4 separate regions of the Homo sapiens genome follow, and all the other regions are linked to region 4. Evidence: fine-mapped expression QTL. A gene starts in region 4. Each other region holds a variant in brackets. All regions are shown on one strand. Distances are between the middles of the regions.

What was found. PIP is the estimated chance that this variant, and not a neighbour inherited with it, causes the effect.
Region 1: its variant is fine-mapped to the expression of NDUFA10 in adrenal gland (GTEx, PIP 0.92).
Region 2: its variant is fine-mapped to the expression of NDUFA10 in whole blood (TOPMed, PIP above 0.99).
Region 3: its variant is fine-mapped to the expression of NDUFA10 in whole blood (TOPMed, PIP above 0.99). The same link has a PIP of 0.9 or more in lung.

The regions. Positions count from the first base shown.
Region 1 is chr2:240,884,836-240,889,982 of GRCh38, reverse strand. MAB21L4 (mab-21 like 4) reads left to right here. Exons shown (of 5, transcript NM_001085437.3): 4 at 1,335-1,691; 5 at 2,821-3,935. The coding sequence ends at 2,913. Among named protein-coding and RNA genes, the nearest start is that of MAB21L4, 8.7 kb to the left of the region's middle. The variant T/A (reference allele first, on the strand shown) is at 2,324.
Region 2 is chr2:239,977,044-239,982,190 of GRCh38, reverse strand. The region is part of intron 9 of NDUFA10 (NADH:ubiquinone oxidoreductase subunit A10); the gene reads left to right. Among named protein-coding and RNA genes, the nearest start is that of MIR4786, 37 kb to the right of the region's middle. The variant CTT/T (reference allele first, on the strand shown) is at 2,594.
Region 3 is chr2:239,947,000-239,952,146 of GRCh38, reverse strand. It overlaps a transcript of NDUFA10 not described here. Among named protein-coding and RNA genes, the nearest start is that of MIR4786, 6.5 kb to the right of the region's middle. RefSeq lists an enhancer at 492-991. The variant G/A (reference allele first, on the strand shown) is at 2,181.
Region 4 is chr2:240,022,260-240,027,406 of GRCh38, reverse strand. It overlaps NDUFA10 (NADH:ubiquinone oxidoreductase subunit A10), which reads left to right and starts at 2,065. Exons shown (of 10, transcript NM_004544.4): 1 at 2,065-2,180; 2 at 5,067-5,147. The coding sequence starts at 2,106. RefSeq lists an enhancer at 1,241-2,070 and a silencer at 1,879-2,138.

The sequences.
Region 1 (5,147 bases), 860 kb before region 4:
GGTTGTCTGTCACCAGGGCCCAGGGGTAGGTGCACCCAGGCGTGTCCCTCCTGCCAGCCCTGACTGGCAGGCAGCTGCTATGAGTCCCAAGTCGGAGTTGGGGGGATTCTGAGGGCCTGCCCAGGTTCTGAGGAGGTGAGGCCGTGGCTCCTGAGGGTCAAGGGAATGTGGCCGCGGGTGCCGTGGTGCCGCAGGCTGGCCTTCGCCATCCCTAGGCCGTGACCTCGGAGGCCCTCCTGGCCCTGGGACACTGTTGGGTAGAATCTCAGGGTGGGGCCTCACAGAGCCCAGTGTTCCCGCCCAGCCAGCCTCCTCCCAGTGTCTGGGAATGTCACCTGGCTGGGACACCTCCCTCTGGGGGTTCCCAGGAGAGTCCAGGCACACCCTTCTCTCTGCTTCCTGGGCCACAGTGACATTCTGCAGAACCCTGTCCTTCTGGGGCTTTGTAACATCAGATGCTGAGAAGAACAAGGAACAGGCAGGGGCCAGGGATTCCAACCCACCCCAACCCCGAGGAAGCAGGTGGGGGCTGTGCTGTCTTGGGGTCTGCTCGGCTGGCCCCTTCCTGGAGTGTGTGGCCAGCCGGGCGCTGCTCCACAGATGGGGCTGGCCCCTCCACCTGGCTCAGTGTTGAGGGAGAGGTGCCCCTCCTGGTGTCCGGAGTCCCTAGGTGACCTCTGGCCATGCCCTCTCAGGCCCCCACCTGACCTGGAGCTTCCAGCCCCCCTTGAGGTTGGATGCATGGTGGTTCCCAAGCCCCAAACTCAACTGCAGGGTGAGAGGCCATGGGAGAAGAGGGTTTGAAAAGCCGCTGTGAGACAGGGCCTGTGAGACAGGGCCTGGGGCAGGATGGAGGGTAAGGGTGTCTGGAACGGCCGCAGGCAGCTCAGGTCTTGTGGTTCAGGCCAGGGGTCATGAGCACACAGGCTAGGACTGTGACAATGCCATGGGCCCGTTGGGTTGGGCTGCAGGGGGTGAGTAGGAGCTCAAAGGGGCGGAGGGAAGGAGAGAAAGGCCCAGAGGATGCTGGGAGCTGCAGAGGCCCCCAAGGGAGGTCCTGGGGGGTGAAAGGAGGAGCTGGGGTGGGGTGCGAGGGCCAGAGCCAGGCAGGGGAGGAGAGAGAGGGGTTCATGCCTTCGGGAGCCAGCAGGCTGGGGGCAGCGGGTGGGAGGGGCCTGGGACTCCGACTGGGACGTGGAGGGGAGGGCACAGGGTAGGAAGAGGTGTGGGTAGGAGCAGGGAGGGGCAGCCAGGGTGAGGGTGGGAGCGCAGGGTGGGAGCACAGGGTGGGCCGGGTGGGCCAGGAGGCCAGGGCTGACCCTGCTGTCCTGCAGATGGTGCTGCTGTGGGCCTCTGTGCTCTTCCTGGCGCCCGAGGACTGGGCAGAACTGCAGGGCGCCGTGTACCGCCTGCTGGTGGTGCTGCTCTGTTGCCTGGCCACGCGGAAGCTGCCCCACTTCCTCCACCCGCAGCGCAACCTGCTGCAGGGCAGCGGCCTGGACCTTGGTGCCATCTACCAGCGCGTGGAGGGCTTCGCCAGCCAGCCCGAGGCGGCCCTGCGCATCCACGCCACCCACCTGGGCCGCAGCCCCCCGCCGCGCATCGGCTCCGGGCTCAAGGCGCTCCTGCAGCTGCCAGCCAGTGACCCCACTTACTGGGCCACTGCCTACTTCGACGTCCTGCTGGACAAGGTGGGTGCTGGCTGCGGGGGCCTTGGGCAGGCCCGGGGGCATGGGAGGGTGGAATGGAGCCCTGGCCTGGCTCCCTGCCCATTCTCTCCCAGGTCAGCAGCCCCAGGAATGCTGAGGCCAGGTCAGGGCTCGGATGGAGAGCGTCTGCGGGGACATGTGATGTCTGGGGGTCACACGGGCCGTGGGGGTCCCCTCACTGGTGGCCTCACAGGGCCTGGGGCTTCTCCCTGGAACCAGGGCAGTGGGTCTGACCCTGCTTCTGTTTCCCACCAGAATTGCCCCCCAGCTCACACTTGGTAAATGCTCAGAGCCCCAGCTGCCCACCCTGGAGTTCCATTCCTCATGAAGGGATATGGCCTTACCTGGGCCCCAGAGGGACCATTTTTTTCTCCCTGGACTCAAGAATCCACAGCCGTGCTCCTTGGGACCCTGTGTCCCCTGGGCCACTTCTCGTGGGTGCCTGGAGGCTCCACCAACTGCCCCTCCCTGTGGCCCAGGCTCTGCCACCTCTGCTGAGCCTGCCTGGAGTCCACCCTGCTCCTCGCCCAGGGCCCGGCCCTCACCCTCATCCCAGGAGCAAACACAATCTCCTTCCAGGGCACAAACAGGGGTTTCTCAGCCACCCTCTCCTG[T/A]GTCCTAGTGGCAGTGAGGCCCCAGGGTAGCCACCCTCTGCTGGGCATCTCCTATCCTAATTTAGCAAACTTCCGCCTGTTGAGATGCTGATGGCCTCCTGGGGCCTCCCCTCATGCCCAACACTTAAGAATTTTTACCCCAGAGCCTGCAGATTAGGGGGCAAAGGCCATGCTCTGTGCTCTCAGCAGACCTGTGTGGGCAGGGTGCGGTGAGGGTGGGGTGGTCACCGGAGGCAGCCTTCAAGCAGCACCGTGTGGGGCCTCCTCCTCAGTGTAGGCCCATGCCAGGGACGCCGTGTGTGAGGAGGGGCTCAGGGAGCAGCAGAGGCTGGGGCCGCTCCGCCTCTAGGATGCCTGTCCAGGCAGATACCCGGGGCAGGAAGGCCCGGCATGGCCCAGGGAGGGCCAGTTGTTCCACGCTGTGCTCTCGGCCCTGAGAGCTTATCATGGGCTCCAGGGGTCCCTGTAACCCTTCTCCCCTGCAACCCTGCCTGTAGTTCCAGGTCTTCAACATCCAGGATAAGGACCGGATCTCTGCCATGCAGAGCATCTTCCAGAAGACCAGGACTCTGGGAGGCGAGGAGAGCTGAGCTGGGCCACCTGGTCTCAGCCACCTGTTCTTGGCTCCCCAACAGACTCTGCACTGCACCATGGGAGGCTCCTGGGATGTTTGGAAGAAGAAACGGGCTTCTCCTTGAGGGGGTAGTGGAGGGATTTTGTCCCCAGCAGTGGCCTCTGAGAGTCTTTCAGTGCCTGGTGGGGCAGGGCAGGCCTCTTGGAGCACCTCCTCCCTGGGTCAGGGCCTGGATGCAGGTGCCAAGCTCTCCATGTGGTGCATGTTGACCCAGCCACGTGGTGTTGTCAAGCAAACAGCATCGGCAGGAGACCTGGAGCTGAGGACTTGGCCCTGCCTGCACTGTATGCCATTCCTTGGTGACGAAATGCTGTATATTTGGTTTTGAAAAAATGAATGTGCTGGGTATACACAGCAGAAAGGGTACTGTCCACTTTTTGTATATCAGTGTGGAAAATATTTCCCCTAGAAGTAGAAAAGGCTCATGTGCTGATGGATAATTTTGAGTCTTCTCCATTCTCTGTGAATGACCCCCTTCCCCAGGCATCCCCACCTCCTACCTCGTTCTTAGAGCAAACTAAAGCCAACTGAGGGTGCACACACAGCCATGAGCCCACCTGCCCAGGACTACTCCCATCTGCTTCTTCCCGTCCCCGTGGAAGTGGCCCCTGATATGGATTGTATCTGTATCCCCACCCAAATCTCAGGTAGAATTGGATCTGTGTCCCCACCCAAGTCTCAGGTAGACTTGTAATCCCCAGTGTTGGAGGAGGGGCCCAGTGGGAGGTGATTGGATCATGGGGGTGGATTTCTCCCTTACTGTTCTCATGATAGTGAGTGAGTTCTCATGAGATCTGGTTTTTTGAGTGTGTGGCCCCTCCCCCTCTCCTTTTGCTCTCTTCCTCTTTCTCCGGCCATGTAAGATATGCCTCCTTCTCCTTCACCTTCCACCATGATTGTCAGTTTCCTGAGGCCTCCCAGCCATGCTTCCTGTATAGCCTGCGGGACTGTGAGTCAATTAAACCTCTTTATTCATTACCCAGTCTCAGGTAGTTGTCTACAGCAGTACAAGAACCTACTAAACATCCCCCCTCTCTGATGTAAGGTGTCCTCTCCTGGCATCTGATGCCACCCCCACTCTGTCCTTACCATTCTTTGTGCCCACAACTCACATTCTCTCATCAGCCCAGCACTGCCTGCCTGCAGCCCATGACCTGCATGGGTCCTGCCCATTGGACATTTCCTATTCTCCATCTTTGGCCTCTCAGGGGCATTGACCCCTCAGTGCCTGAGCCACAGCTCACACCTTTGGCTCTTGGAGGGGACCTGCAATTCATGCAGCAGCAGCTCCCTGGAGCCTCCTTGAAAGGGACCTCTGGCCATCTGCCAGAGGAAGCACAGACTCACGACAGGAGATGCCCAGGCCCCTTGAAGGCTGCAAGATCCAGGGCCTGAGCTGACACACACAAAAGGGGACACAAAATGCCATCACTCCTCCCCCATTAGAATGGGGGCTGGTAGAAGCAGAATCTTGGTTCACATCTGATTCATAATGGAACCGAAGGGCCAGGCCCACCCTGTGGCCATCCCCTTGGCATTTGATTGTGAAGCAGGGTGGCTGTACATTGCAGGAGTAAGAGCTGGAATAGCAGGAAGGGCCAAGGGGAAGTTTATTGCAAAATCATCCCTATTCCCATGGCCAAGATAACCCAGCAAAACATACCACATCCTGGGTGTACTAACGGAATTTAGTTCTACTTTCAGAGACTTTAATTCACCAATATGGCCCCAGTAGAAGCCAGATGGATTATGGTGAATGGTAGTGGGTTACATAAACTTAACCAAGCTGTAACCCGTAGTCCAGGTGCTGTGCTAGACGTGGTATCCTTAGTACAACAGGACAGCAGGGCCTCTGGAACTTGTATGTGGTCACTGGCCTGGGAGAAAGGCATTCTTTCCAATCCCCATCAGAGGGGAGGCTCAGACACGGTTTGCATTCACTTGGAAGAGATAACATTATAAGTTCACTGTCTGGCCCAGACTGATGTTAACCCTCTCTTCTCTGTCACAATGTAGGCCTAATGGGCCTTCATCACCTGGATGGTCTATAGAATATTACGCTGGTTCACTGTATTGATGACATCATGCCAATTCGAACTGGAGAGGATTGACTGGAAAGTTCTTTGGATGCCTTCTAAGACCATTCATTCCAGAGGGTGGGAGACAAACTTTACAGTCTCAGGGCCTGGC
Region 2 (5,147 bases), 45 kb after region 4:
GCAGAGTACAAGAGAGGGTCCTGAAGTGCTTCTCACTGGTCTTTGGAGGTGGGAAGACCTTCTCATCGGTCTTCAGGTACACGTGTCAGGTCACTGGTTTGCTGCAGGGGAGCAAACAGCATTTGAGGACATTCCACAGAACGTGTGACTATTAGAGCAGAAGGTAGTTGGCAGCCGGTTATTTCCTGGAGCAAGTGGAGGCCATGGATGCCTTTTCATGGCAGTGGTTCTTAGAAGCCCATTACCCTGCTAGGCAATTTCTCGCTTTCTGGGAGACTTTTTTTTTTTTAATGTTGAAAATATGTGTTTTAGCCAAATTCTGCCATTAACATGAGAATTTCTATAATCCCAATTAATTTTCTAAAAATAATAAAATTACTAAAACTATGCCTTATAATTTCATGAGAAACTTAAAATATACTTGCACTGTGCTTCTGTAAATAGGTGGTCTGTGTATTGTAACATGCCCAGGACGTTGCATGCATGTTTTATGATGGGTATTGTCCTTGTTGATACCTGGAGGTTAGGAGTTATTAGGTAGCACTTCTGATTCTTGGAAAACGAGTAATGCTTTGACCTTTATTCTTTAGATTAAGGATTATAGTCTTCGTTTTTCTTCCAGGATTTTCCTGATTTTTCTGACTTTAGTGTTTTTGTAGTTTTGTGAGATGGGTCTAGATTTGAATTTTTCTTTATGCCAGTGCTATTTGCATCTTGTTGGTAGGATCTTATTCCTTGTTGGTAATTCCCCCATTGCTTCTCTCTGTAGACATTTTAAACCTAGTTATTTTATGCTCTGTCTCTGGAGCGCTGCTCTGGACGCTGTCTGATCTTGTTCGTTGTTTCTTCTTTTTCTCACCCATGGTGGCTTCTTTTCTTGACTGTGTTGGAGACTTTGGGTACAGAGCTTCTGCCCTGTGGGGCTCCATCCATGGGCATTTGGTGAGAGTGGGTCCCTCCTGAGTCAGGTTGCCAGATGAAGTACAGGATGCCAAGGTAAGCTTGAACTGAGAGCAGCTAGTATTTTAGTATAAGTATGTCCCAAGGTTTTTAACCGGGTATCCTATATGATTTCTCAGTCCTGGCAGCCCTACTCCTGAAAGGACCCTTTGCTGCTGCCAGGCCTCAGATTCCTGAGGAGCAGGGAGGGATTGATGGCACCTTTGTTGCTTGTGGTATTCCAGGCCCTGGAGGTAATGCAAATTTCAACCCTCGAACCTGTGTGGAGAGAAGCTCTGGTTACGAATTCCCAGTGGAGAATGGTTTCACCACTGGGTGCCAGCTGGGGTCTCCTTGCTGGCAGGAGGCCTTCTCCCCGCACTGAGGTGTGGCCCTTCAGGAGTCACCTCACAGGGACACCAGGCCGTGTCTTGTGGCTCTCTGCAGCTCTTGGGCGTCCCGAGGGCACCGCGGCTTCAGCTCACCACTCTGGCTTTTCCACTCACTCTTCCTTCTTAGCCCTTTGTGATTTCTTGCGGAGCTCAGCTGTACATGTAGAAGCATTTCCAGAGGTTTTTATATCAAGAAGCTTTTCTGCATATTAGGGCTGCTGTTTTGCTAGAAATGGAAGGCTCCCCTATTTTTCTTTATAACTGGAAACCCTGTTTTGGTGCTGGTTCTTTCTGTAGCCATTCTGTGGAGGACCTGTCTGAATTAGAAAGTCTACATTTTATATACTCAATAGGTATTTACCCAATGAACAGTCCCCCAGAATGCAGAATTGATTAAATCCCCAACCCCGAAGGCACAGAAGGGAAACCTGGCTGATCAAAGAATTCTTGCCTTTTAATTTAATCTGAGTTCTATCCCAGAGATAGAGTCAGGCATCTTGGGAGTGCTAAGGTAGTAGGAATGACAGTTTATCCCAATACCTGCTGCCAAGCCTGACATTTCAGACCCCCTGCCCGACAGTGTCATCCCAGTGTCCTACCACTTCTGCACTTAGCCCTGATTAGATCTTTATCGTGCCAGGCACTGTTGTAAGCATTGGGGCCACACCCGAGAGTGAAGCCAAGCCCTGCCCTCATGCAGCTCACCTCCTAGTGGGCAGGGAGAACAGATGATAGACAGGTAACAGGGTGCCAGGGTCTTGGAGAAAGCACAGCGAGGAGGCTGCCATGTGGAGAGAGGTCTCAGGCACCTGACGCAGGGGACTGAGGGATGTGGGGGTGTAGGGGAGCAGGCGCCACAGGGGAGTGAGGGATGTGGGGGTGTAGGGGAGCAGGCACCCCCCGGAAGGCAGGAACAGGTGGACATGGTCTGGAGCTAGAGAAGAGCCCGTCATGGTGAGGTGTGATGCGGGTGGGGTGAGCTTGAGCAGGGAGTGAGCTGAAAAGGCAGCAGGCCAAGGTCAGCCGGGGTCCGCAGCTGCCACGGGGACCTCAGTTCAGCGGTACTCCTGGTGAGGTGGTGGCGTTGGTGCGCCAGAGAGTGGCATCATCTGGGTCTCAGGTTTAAAGGGTTGCTCTGCTTGCCACGTCGAGTATCAACTGTGGGGGCAAAGGCAGAGGGCCAAGGCGGTCAGGGAGGGTCCTGGTGGTGCAGGTGAGAGTGCTGGTGCTATGGGCGGGGGCGCTGAGAGTAGGCACTGTCT[CTT/T]TTCCCGAGAGCCCCCACTTAACAGGGGCATTGTTGCCCCTCCTTGCCCAGCCAAGTTGCTTCTTGCTTTTTAGGTTTTCAAAATTAAGCAGACTATTGCTGAAGGATTCCAGCAGAGGGAGTCAGGGAAGAGGTGCAGGGTGGGGAGCGGGCTGCTGAGGGCCTGGTGGTGGCCTTTCCTCACCGGACGGTGGAGCCCTGGGCCTCTGCTGTGTTGCCTCTCCTGCAGAGTTGTGTGTGTGACTGGAGGAGAGGGGTGGAGCCAGTTCAGCCAGCACTGGGGTCTAACTATAAAGCACAATAGAGACAGGTAGTGGCAGCTGGGTGGGGTGGGCTGTGGGGTGGGGTTCTAAGATAGGAATTTGCCGTTTGTAACAAAGGAACTTTGGTGTAAAGGCTTTAATTTAGGAATCCCAGGCATACTTCCTCATGGATCTTTTCCTGACCCTTATGTTTAATTTAATTTACTGATGGATGGATGAGCCCAGAAAGGGTTACACAGGAGCACACTTCTCAGGGAGTGGTGTGACGCTGGGGAGGCTCGCCCACCCTGTGTCTGAGCTAATTTCTGAAATCTGTTTGGAGCTTATATATTGAAACAAAGCCGTTATTCTAACTTTCACATGAAAAGAGCTCCATGTCTTTTAAGATACTTTTTTATTAGAGCTCAAGTTCTTTTATAAGCAGAAACTCCTTTTTTAGGTTTCTAAAAAGCATACAAACGGTGGGAAGACAGAATTCTTCCCCAAATCACCTACAGGTGGTTCGCCCACACCTATTTCAATAGACCTTATTTTAGCGACTCACCTTCATCAAATGGTTCCAAAGTGTTTCAGCCTAGTTTTAACAGAACAGCAGCTCTTCCTTTTCAGACGCGTAGTTTTCATAACATTTAATTAAATTTTGCAATTGCAATGACAAGTACAACTGGCGTCGCTGCTGGGAAACAGACCACTGACTCATACCACTTGGTGGGAGGGACAGAAGTGCCTGTGGGCCAGTGGGAGCAGGTCCTGCCACTTGGTGTCCTGTGTAGGCTGGCTTGTGAGTGATCCAATCGGGGTTGGTCAGAAGAGCTTTCTGCTGAAAGGAAGAAGAGCTGGTGAAGAGGACCAAGCTCGCCAGAGTATTAGGAGGCAGGCCAGACTGTGTGGGCCCTGGGCGCCAGCAGAGGAGCCTGTAGAGGAGCTTCAGTGTCTGTCAGAGGCCGCAGGAAGGTCAGGGGTGGTGAAGGTTGACCATGCCCAGGATACTGCGTTGATGACCAGGTCATAGGTGAACCTTGAGAGAAGTGTCAGGAGACTGGTGGGAATTAGAGATTCCATCTTCTATAGCTTGTTATTTTGTCTTGTTTTTAAGGGCTAAGGCATTCTCAGTGTGTTTATAGGCAAAAGGGTAAGTGCTTGTGGAAAGAGGGAAAAGATGCAAGAGAGGAATGGGACCGTTGATGGAGCAGGGATCCCAGAGGCAGGGGGGCCTCTTGGCTCCTCAGAGATCCCAGTTCACCAAGCAGGGATCCCAGAGGCAGGGAGGCCTCTCAGCTCATCAGAGATCCCAGTTCACCAAGCAGGCGTGGCCAGGCCAGATCACTGTTTGTTTCATAGGACCCCAACCTAGTCTGCTGAGGGGAGGCTGGAGGGGTGGGTGAGGGCTCTTTCCTCCCATGGGGAGACACTCTGTTGGATTGGCCATGTGTGGAGTGGAGGCACAGAACCTACATCCAGGGTGCTGCGAGCGTAGCTGAGAAAGCCAGCTGACCCATGCTGGGTGGTTGACCAGGCCCAGTGACCACGTTGGCCATTGTCATTGAAGCATCTCATTCCTTGATTAAAATCCACTGGTGCTCTTCACATCACAGGGCCAGTTCCAGACAGTAGATTACAGCCATTTGATGTGTCATATTTACGTTCTCCTAGCGTGAAAGCAGCAGTTTGTGTGCTTAACATTATAAATATACATGGTTGAACATCCTGGATGTGATGGCTAATGAGTCTCTCTGGAACAGATTGGTTTTGGAGATGTCTTGACTGGCCTTTAAGGGGCACGGTCGTCCAGCTGTGGAGCACTCGTGGAGTCAGATCTCCACACAGTGGTTCAGGTCCCTGTGAATCCTCTCACCTGCGTGAAGGGCCTGGCTGCCTCTTCTAGGTGTCTGGGAAGCCTGCTCTTTCCCATCAACTGCACCCTTAAATGGGGACTCCAGAAACAGGAGCAGTGTCAGGGGCGAGTTAGAGGGCCTAGCACGCCATACTCAGGGACAGTGGCGGGACGCTGGCAGGAGCAGTGGCAGCTCATGGGGCTCCGGATCCCAGGTGCCTGTGCTCGCCCACCTGCACCTGCCAATGGATGGGTGACTTTGAACAACACGAGAAGACGGCAGTTGGGGTCCAGTGGCCTTCGTTACTGTTAGGAAGAAGGTCCAGTTGCCCATTCTAGACTTGCTGTCTCTCTTGTCTGTGTTTCCTTATCCCTGAACCTGGCTTCCAGTCTGAGTTTAGGGAGATCTGCTTGGCGGGGGAAGGTTTCCCAGCTCTTCCTGTGGCTGGATGGAG
Region 3 (5,147 bases), 75 kb after region 4:
AGGCTGTCTGCCCTCTGCGAGCAGGTGTGGCACATGTGTTGCTGGTTCATCCCGTGGGCTCACAGGCGGCTCCTGTGCAGACCTCTAGTGGGTGTGGGACTTCAGGCAGCAGCCTTTGGCCCCTGCCGGCCCACACCCCAGGACCCATGCCACAGCACCTACCGAGGGAAAGAGACCAAAGGGCATGCACCATCTCAGGTCTCGAGAGGGACAGAGCCAGGCAGGAGCCTGGGCAGGCGTCAGCAGGGCCCTCGTGTTCCTGGGTCCCACTGTCCTTCCCGCTGCCCAGGGCATGGCCAGGCCGGAGGCCTCGGTGTGCCGTTGGGACCAGGCCTGGGAACCCCTCTGGCTTGTTTCCCCTTTTTAGTTACACAAATACTTTATGATCACTTCTGAAAATTTAGGAATTTTAGGAATGAACAAGGAAGATAGCTTTAGAGTTATATACATTTTCTTTTACTTGCCATTAGAGTCTTCCTAGACCCTGTTTTTTAAAGATGCCTGACTCTCCACGCCCGGCTGTGACCAAGCCTGCCGCCCCTCCATCATAGCTGCTTCTCAGTGTCCGGCACATCCTGTACTGGGTGCTGAGGGGACCCAGGGAGGGTGTGGCGAGAGGAGGACCCTGACCAGGCATCCCTGGGACACGGCTGCCCAGCACGGGCATTTTTTCTTTTATGGAGGCTCAGAAGTGAGGCCTGAGAACACAAGAGAAACGGCCTCGTTAGACCCTGGCCCCACTTTCTTCCCAATCTCAACCACCTTCGACGACTCAGTCATCAATGTCTGCGTCTCTCCCCCTGCTGTCCTCTGTAACCCACGGGTGGCTGACGCAGCCATTGTCCCTGTCTCCAGGGCAGCAGCACAGGAGCGTGTGGCCCTCCCGAGGCCCCTCCCGCACGCCCTGTGGGCACCCCGGGTCCCATCGCTGCAGGGTTCCCTGTCTCAATAGTAGCCTCTCCTTCTGATGTCTTGTGGTCAGATGTTTGCTGGAAAGGGCCCCAGAGCCCCAGTGAAAATCCAGACTCAGAGATGAGACTGAAACGGGAAGTGTCAGCATTGTTTTAGGGTTTTTCACTTCAAAAGCCAATAATCCTCTGAAGCAGGGCCCTTCTGCACTCCTTCCAGGCTCAGCAACTACCTGACAAAGGAACGAGGGGCTGAAGCGGAACGTACTGGAAGCCCTGGCCAGCAGGTGGCCAGTGGGACGCTGACTTGAAACCTCTTTGAAGCAGTCATGGGAGCAGTGGGAACAATTGCCCCGTAATTGTTGGACAGTGTCACACAACTAGACAGGCACCTACTTGAATCACAGAATGGAGCTGTGTGGTGTTTCTGTGACACTGGGATGAAGCTGCAGGCACGAGCAGGGGTCTGCACAGCCGACCACGGGGACAGACAGGCGTGCGGCTGCCACTCACCTGCACGTGGTGGCCATGTGACATGCACAGGCCCTTACACCGCCCCAAGCTCCTATCCGTACCAGTGTTGGAAGAAGCCGCTCAATCAGCAGTTGGTTTGCTTTGATTTTACCTTAAAATCCTGACGCTATCCTGGTCATAATGAGCTCTCATCCGTGTGTGGGGTCCTTACACCGAGGACACCAGGTCTAAACACAAGTGGGAAAGGTCAATGTTTACATCTACACTTCAGATGCCTAAAAACAGAGTCTTCGGGGAGCAAGGAGGAACCGTTCCTCAGATTTCCAAAGGTCATGCCCCGAGGGGGCAGCTTGGTGGACTGGAGCCGTCTGAAAAAGAAGGTGGTGGGTCGGGAGCCCTGAGCCTCCTGCTTGGGCCAAGGCATGCCCACAGGAGACCTCTTGCCCGCTCAAGGACTCGGGGGCCTGAGGGATCCCTGAGGAAGCTGTGAGTGGTGGGCAGCCGTCTGGCTGTAGGAGATGCATCATCTCAGCTTCTTTATAACAGGGCCAGCCTGTACTGCTGAGGGTGGACCAAAGCCACACAGCATGGGGCGGAGGGGCTATAAGGACTGGAAACCTTTCTAAATCTCTGCCACCACTTCGTGAGCCCACTCTGAGGTGTGCCCCCTCCCTAGATTCTCACAGCAAGCTTGGCTGCAGGTGGGGACGGCCTGATTTTTCTCCCATTATGTACGTAAGAAAATAGGCTCTAGGGTGGGACCTCCCCAGTCTCCCAGATGGAATGTGGTGAGTCCAG[G/A]TTCAGGCTCAGTCAGGGCTCTCCTGAGACCAGGACCCACAGGATGAACAGATATGGAGACAGTTACAAGGATTCTGGAGGCTCAGAAGCCCCAAGATCTGCTGTCTGCAAGCTGGAGACCCAGGAGAGCCAGTGGTGCAAGTTCCAGTCCAAGGGAAGACCAATGTCCCACCTCAACAGGCCAGTGTCAGGTATGGTGGCTCGCGCCTGTAATCCGAGTGCTTTGGGAGGCTGAGGTGGGAGGATCGCTTGAGGCTGAGTTGGAGACCAGCCCGGGCAACATAGATGAGGCCTTGTCTCTTCAAAAAGTAAAAGTGTGGTGGCACGCGCCTGTTGTCCCAGCTATGTGGGAGGCTGAGGTGGGAGGATTGCTTGAGCCCAGGAGTTTGCACTCCAGCCTGAGCAACAGAGAAGACCTTGTCTCTAAAAAACAAACAAACAAAAGCAAAAAACAAAAAACAGGCAGAGAGTGGGAATTCTTTCTTCCACCACCTTTCTGTTCTTTCCAGACCCCCAGTGGACTGGAGGATGCCTGCCCACGCTGGGGAGTGCCGCCTGCCTTCCCGAATCCACCAGGTCACATGCTGATCTCATCCCCCACAGATACACCCCAAAAATCTTGTTTGACCAAATACCTGGGCAGCTGTAGTCCAGTCGGGTTGGATGTCTAAAGCTGATCTGTACAATTGCTAACTCGCTTCGCCCTCCGAGCCGTGCATCTCACTCCTCAGACACAAATGCTGGTGCTCATTCCTGCCCCAAGCTCCTATCCGTATCAGTGTTGGAAGAAGTCGCTCAATCAGCAGTTGGTTTGCTTTGATTTTACCTTAAAATCCCGACACTATCCTGGTCATAATGAGCTCTCATACGTCCGTCCCAAAGAGGGACATGTGTCCATTGCATTCGTGGGGTTAAAGCAATGAGAAAGCCTGCAAGGCAGGAAGCTTGGGGTTGGGGGCTCCAGGGGAGCAAGGAAGGGTTGGGGGCTCCAGGGGCAGAAGGGGGTGCCCTGTGACTTCTGAGACACTGCATTTGAAGTAGAGAGCCTTCTCTTCTGGACTCCTGCACGCTTTATCTTTGTGTGAACTGTTCCCTGCAAAATAAATACACAGGCCTCTGCTGGCTCCTGCCTAGGCCAGGATGGCTCGAGGCTTGGTGAAGTCCCCAAGGAGGGAGGGCCACCTCGGCTGGCTCTAGTTTTTTCTGTCCCAGACACTGGAGGCCTGGATTTGTGGAAGATGAAGGGACATACTGAGTTGCGTCGTCAGGCTGGCATCTGAGCCACCTTTGCAATCCCTAGTTTGTCCTTGTATTTGGAACGCTGGAGGCTCGAGTCAGGATCCGGGTCCCACCGACGTGTATTTGTGCTTTCAAGATGGCTGGGGCTTTTAGCCTTGGCAGCTTTGCTCGGGCAGGCCTGCTGCTTTTTACATTGGGTTTTCCAGCGACTCCACTTACAGCTGCAAAATGGACAGTGGGCTGTAGACCCTGAACAACGTCAAGTGAGTGCATGTTTTGAACGCCTGTTACTTTTCCGTCGCCACTCATGGAGCGGAGGCTGTGGAGATGTCGGTTACTTTCTGTCCCCTGGGGGCTCAGGACCCAGCTGCAGAGCAGCCTTGAATGAGACCACAGGGAGCCTCTGAACAGGGCCTTGAGGGGCCAAAGGGAGAAGAGCAGCCTGGAGGCCATTGTCCGGAGCACAGCCTGGCTTCGTCTCTGGAATGCGTGGCTGAGGCTGGGAAGAGGGACGGACGTGTGGGCAGGGCCCAGGAGGTTCTAGCTCTTAAGTGTTGGTGGAAATGAGCTGCTATTTCCCTAAGAATTGTACACAATCCTGAACCTTGCTGCCGTTAACTGAACCTCTGGACTTTTGCTCAAACAGCTGTAGTGACGACAGAGCTTGTCCCCCGACCTCACCTCCTCCACCTCACCACCAGAGGATGTAAATTGGCTAACTTGGCCTCGGAAGACCAGCTTGAAGGGCAGGGCCACCTATGCACATGTGACCTCCATGTTCACCCAGTGCCCACGCTCAAGAAGGGCCCACACTTGATTTAATGTTCAGCTGTGGCCGTCCTGAAAGTCTGAACAAGTTTTGGACCAGAGCCTCCCGTTTTCATCTTGCACTGGGGGCCACAGGTTATGTCGCTGCCGTGGGCGTGTTGAGGCACCACCCCGTGCTTCCTGGAGCCCTCATCCCTCTTGCCATCTGGCAACAAGAGCTGGGCTGGCCTGTTGCATAGTCTTTGAGGCCTTCAGTGGATGGAGGAGCTCACGGCAGCAGGAAGGCCGGTGTGTGAGAGGAGCCCCGGGAGGACCCTCACAGGACCCTGGGCCTGGAGGCCTGGGGCTCGGCGGGGAGGGCGGGGCTTGCTCTGGGCCTCAGAGAGTCAGGAGCCGTCCCTGTCTGTGTCTGGTGCGCAGAGAGGGCGGGGCTTACTGGGCCCTGGTGAGGCAGGGACTGTCCCTGTCTGTATCTGGTAGCAGCTGCCTCCCGGTCTTTGTCCAGCTTCTTCCTTAGGCCGAGCATTTGGCTGTGGCTGCAGGAAGCCCAGCGGGGCGTGCAGAAGGCAGGCACACAGGACAGTCACTGAGCCATTTTCCTCTGTGGGCCTCAGGAGCTCTGTCCCTGGGGGCTCTGGGAGTTGGTGTGGGATGTAGGCCTTAGGCACCTGCATTGGTATAGGGCTGTCCTGGTATGACTTCTTGGTATTCCCAGGCTCGGATGCCTGCTGCCAGATAATGTCCAGGGCCTTGGTCTAAGCAGTGTGAGCAGGCGGGACGGCCCCAGATGGCCTGGCCTAGGCCTCCAGGGATTCTGTACCCATGAGGAAGGGGCTGCACTGCAGCCTGGATCCCAGCTCCTTACCCAGGATCCCACCCACACTACCTGCTGAGCACCGGGCTTCAGGACTGAGGAGTCCCATGGGAGGCACAGCACCCACCACCATGGGCTGGGCATCC
Region 4 (5,147 bases):
CAGTAAAACTGTAATGCCCAACCTGGTTTTTACTAACTGTTTTCAGACTCTCCCTTTTCCTTTAATCACCTAGCCCTGTTTCCACCTGAATTGACTCTCCCTTAGCTAAGAGAGCCAGACAGACTCCATCTTGGCTCTTTCACTGGCAGCCCCTTTCTCAAGGACTTAACTTGTGCAGGCTGACTCCCACCACATCCAAGAATGCAATTAACTGGTAAGATACTGTGGCAAGCTACATCCGCAGTTCCCAGGAATTTGTCCGATTGATAACGCCCAAAGCCCCGGGTCTATCATCTTGTAATAGTCTTAAAGCCCCTGCACCTTGAACTGTTTACTTTCCTGTAACCATTTACCCTTTTAACTTTTTGACTACTTTACTTCTGTAAAATTGTTTTAACTAGACCCCCCCCCCTTCCTAAACCAAGGTATAAAAGTTAATCAAGCCCCTTCCTCGGGGCTGAGAGAATTTTGAGCGTTAGCCGTCTCTCGGTCGCCAGCTAATAAAGGACTCTTAATTCGTCTCAAAGGTGGTGTTTTTCTAACTCGCTCAGGTACAACAAAACATCCACGCAAACAGGTTGTGAGAAGTTACGTCTGCGTGCTGTGATACCTAGAGGAACCACTACGAAAACTATACATAATGATATTTCCCAAGACATTATCAGTAAATCAAGATGGAATTCTAAAAAAATGTACTGTATCCATTGGAAGGCACAAAAAAAAAAAAAAAAAAAAAATGCAAAGGAAACAAGGCAAAAAACAGCAGACATGAACCCTAAAGCTTGTTAAATGGATTTCAGGTGCCCTCCAGGATCTAAAAACCAGACCCTCCTGCGTTGGGGACCGGGAATCCGTATTTTTGACAAAAAGCAATTCTTCAATTATAGAAACATCCATAGAACCGGCCGTAGTTTACACAGCTGCATTCCCACTGTTTTACAATCGCATGATCATTTCTGAAAAGTTGAAAACAAAGTTAAAGAATATTTAAGGGGTTAAGAACAAAAAGCCTGGGGAACACAAAAGATTATAAAAACCCTTCCCAACAGCAGGCATACTTGGAAGGAAACCTCACATGCAAGGCTCCTTCGTGGAGCCCAGAGCCCAGGTCCTGACGGGAGCACATTTTAAGAGATGGACTTGCCGGCGCGGTGGCTCACGCCTGTAATCCTAGCACTTTGGGAGGCCGAGGCGGGTGGATCACGAGGTCAGGAGATCGAGACCATCCTGGCTAACATGGTGAAACCCCGTCTCTACTAAAAATACAAAAAATTAGCCGGGTGTGGCGGCGGGCGCCTGTAGTCCCAGCTACTCGGGAGGCTGAGGCAGGAGAATGGCGTGAACCAGGGAGGCGGAGCTTGCAGTGAGCGCGATGGCGCCACCGCACTCCAGCCTGGGCGACAGAGCGGGACTCTGCCTCAAAAAAAAAAAAAAAAAAAAAAAAAAAAAAAAAAAAAAAAAGAGATGGACTTGGAGCGTGTGCTTTTGTTTTCTATGCTATTCAATGTGTTCACAGCAGGTCCCCTGGATGAGACCACTTAGCCTTCAGCTCCGGAGGCGACCCAGGCCGGCCTTGCCAGGTCCCTCTCCCTGACAGGCGCCCCGCGACAGGGGTCCCACCCCGTCCCTCCGCTCCTCGCCCCCTCTTTTTCCACTTTCCCTCCCCAGCGAGAACGTTCTGAGAGCTAGGAATGTTCTCTAGGAGGTCGCTTTGACGTCCACACCGCGCCTGGGGGATTCTGCGGGGAGCACAGGACCCTGGGACGAGACGCAGAAGTCGCTCCACGCCCTGGGCGGCCTCAGCTCCCGCGACACCGCAGCAACTCAGAACCCAGGCAGGGGCCGGGCAGCCAGCATGCTGCCCCCACGTTCACCTCCAACTCCCACCTCTCGGCCCTCGCCCCAACCCGCAGGACCCTGGCAGCGCACTGGCTGTCTCCGCGGAAGCCCCCGAGGGCCTCGGCGCGGCCCCGCCCCCTGGAAGGTTCCCGACAGGCGCCGCGGGCACCCCGGCCGTGACGTCACGGCAGCGCGCCGGCCGCGAGAGAGGGCCCCGTCGCGACCGCGTCCCCTTGGGTCCTTGATCCTGAGCTGACCGGGTAGCCATGGCCTTGCGGCTCCTGAAGCTGGCAGCGACGTCCGCGTCCGCCCGGGTCGTGGCGGCGGGCGCCCAGCGCGTGGTGAGCGGGCGGCGGGGTGGCAGGGTGGCGGGGTGGCAGGGTGGCGGGGTGGCGGGGTGGGGAGCAGTTCCACATCTCCCCCGGCCTCTGGCGGCGGCTCCCAGGTCGCTCTCCGGGTGGGTTTGGGGGACCCCTCCTGCCTCCGGAATTGTTTGGTCTTTGGTCGTGGACAGACCTCAGGGGGCCACGAGCTTCTCCAGGCCATTTTATCTCAGCTTTAAGCAAAACGCTGGAGCGCGGAGGTGATCAGGGCCCCGAGGCTGCCCTGATGCGGGAGGCCCGTGTGCAGGTGGCAGGCCGGGGGCACACGCGCTTGTCATTAGATAATTCACGTAGCAGCCCTGTCAAGAGCCGTTTAAAGGTCGGGCCCTGCTGGGTGCTTGGGTGATGCCATGTTGAGCAGACACGGAGTTCAGTGCTTGTGTCCGCTTCCTTTTGCCTTTACTCTGACTGACTACTCTCATTTCTTAGCATTTTGCCCCCACCTTCTTCAGTGAAATCGTTTCATACATTTGTAACACAGTTGGATTGCTTTGTCACATTCTGCCTTACATCTTGGGATCCTTCTACCTAATGCGTTTTTTAAAATGTGCATACATTGAGCGCATTCTTTGTGCTATAAGGTTCTATGGATTTTTTCTTTGTGCTATAAGGTTCTATAGGTTTTGACACGTGTGTAATAGCATGTCTCCACCATTATAGGTTCGTACAGAGTAGCTTCACTGCCTTAAAAAATTCCCCTCTGCTTTACCTATTAAACCCTTCTTTTTCTCCAACCCCTGACAACCACAGATCTCATTAACATTTCCATAGTTGCCTTTTCTGGAATGTCATATAATTAGAATCATACAATATATTGCCTTTTCAGACGCCTTGAATACTTGGAAATATCTATGTAAGATTCACTTATGTCTTCGTGGCTTGGTAACTCATTTCTTTTTAATCACTGAGTAATATCTCATTGCATGGATGTACTTCAATTCATTCAGCAATTGAAGGGCATCTTGGTTGCTTCAAGTTTTTGGCAATTATGAATAAAGCTGCTGTAATCGTGTACATGCAGATTTCTTTTTGGAAATACATTTTTATATCATTTGGGTAATACCTGGAAGAGCGATTACTCATGTAGTAAGACTAGTTTTCTAAGAAGCTGCCAAGCCATCTTCCAGAGTGACTGTGCCATTTGACTCCCACCAGAAGTGAAGGCTCTCCTTGTTGCTCTGCGTGCTCGCCAGCATGCGGGGCTGTCGGTTACTTTGGATTGCTATCCATTCTGATAGCTGCGTAGTGGTATCTTGTTTCAACTTTGGAATATCTCATGATATACAGTGTTCATCTTTTCATATACTTATTTGCTATCTGCGTTAATTTCATTTGCGAGAGGTGTTTACATCTTTTGCCCATTTTTAAATTGGGTTGTCTGCTTTGCCTTGTTTTGTAACTTGTTTCTTCCTTACTCTTCAGTTATCAAATCAAGATCGAAAAATATCTTGATATTTCATATTCTCCTGTTTTATTTAAATTTCACTATAAAGTATTTTAATATTTTTGTGTTTTTCTGAGTACTTAGTATTCCATAATATGGATATGCCTTAATTTTGTTTAACTATTCCTCCGTTGTTGGACATTTAAGGGTTTCTATTTGCATTTTTGGTGTTACATCATACTTCATTGAGCATCCTTATAGGTCAATCTTATGTATATACTCTTTGAATGGATTCCTAATGCTGTAGACCCAGCGTCCTCTAGGTTTCATTACCATTAGCAGTTTAGGATGGTACTCATTGTCTTGTCCTAACTCTGTAATCATTTTTTAAATTATTTCTCATTTTGACACATGAAAAACTAATGTTTCCTTGTTAATAGTCTTTTGTTTTTTTGTAGCAAGGTTGACCACTTTTTCATGTGGTTTTTGGCTATATTTTATAATTTTAAAATAAGCTGTGTGTTTTTATTCTTTGTTTTCTTATTGTTCTGTACAATTTCTGTATATAGTAAGGTTATTACCCCATCATATCTGTTGAACTTCTTCAGTTTGTTTTACTTTTGGTTATGTTTCTTTTCTTTTTTTGGAAGGAATGTTCCCACTTTAGTGTGGAGAGTAAATTGGGCTGCTGGAGACAGGCATTGAAGCAGGTCTTTGCCTTGTAGATGAGAGGTGTGAGGGTGCCGACAGAGTCAGCACATGGCATAGGGAGGCGATGCAGTGTCCAGAGAGTCTGAACAGTTAGGATTTTGTGTGTAATTCTGCAGTTGAAGGAAGGAGAAAGGTATCAAAGACGACACTCAAATTTGCTCTCTTTTGCTTGTTAGGTAGTGGATATTCCTTGCTGTGAGGGAAAGCAGACTTGGGGGCTAGGATATGGATGTTGCATTTCACCTTAGCTCTGTTACCTTCAGGTGCCTTCAGGACATCTAGGTGGAGCTGTTTAATAGGCAGTGGGGTAACGAGGTCAGGACATGGGGACAGAAGCTTGGATTAGAGAAATGTTTTTTATTCCCTTCCCTTCACTCCTGAGCTTCCCTCCATCCCTGTCTTTCTTCCTCCCGTCTGTCCGTCCATCCATCCATCCATCCACCCCTCCCTCCCTCCCTCCAATTTTTATTGAACATAGTAAACATATTTAATAAAAATTTCAGGCATTGTTCCAGGGCCTGAGGATTTAGCAGTGAACAAACAGACAGTATATCTGCCTTTAACGAAACTTACATGGACAGAGTGGTGGGGGATAGACAGATAATTAAACAAATTAATAGGCAATAAAGATGTAGATGTTGGCATTTTTATCACTAAGAGGTTTCTTGGTATTTTTACCTAATAGTTACTAATGCCTACAGGAACCAGAGTGGTCACAATGTGCTGCTGTGTGATTTTGTGTTTTTCAGAGAGGAATTCATAGCAGTGTGCAGTGCAAACTGCGCTATGGAATGTGGCATTTCCTACTTGGGGATAAAGCAAGCAAAAGA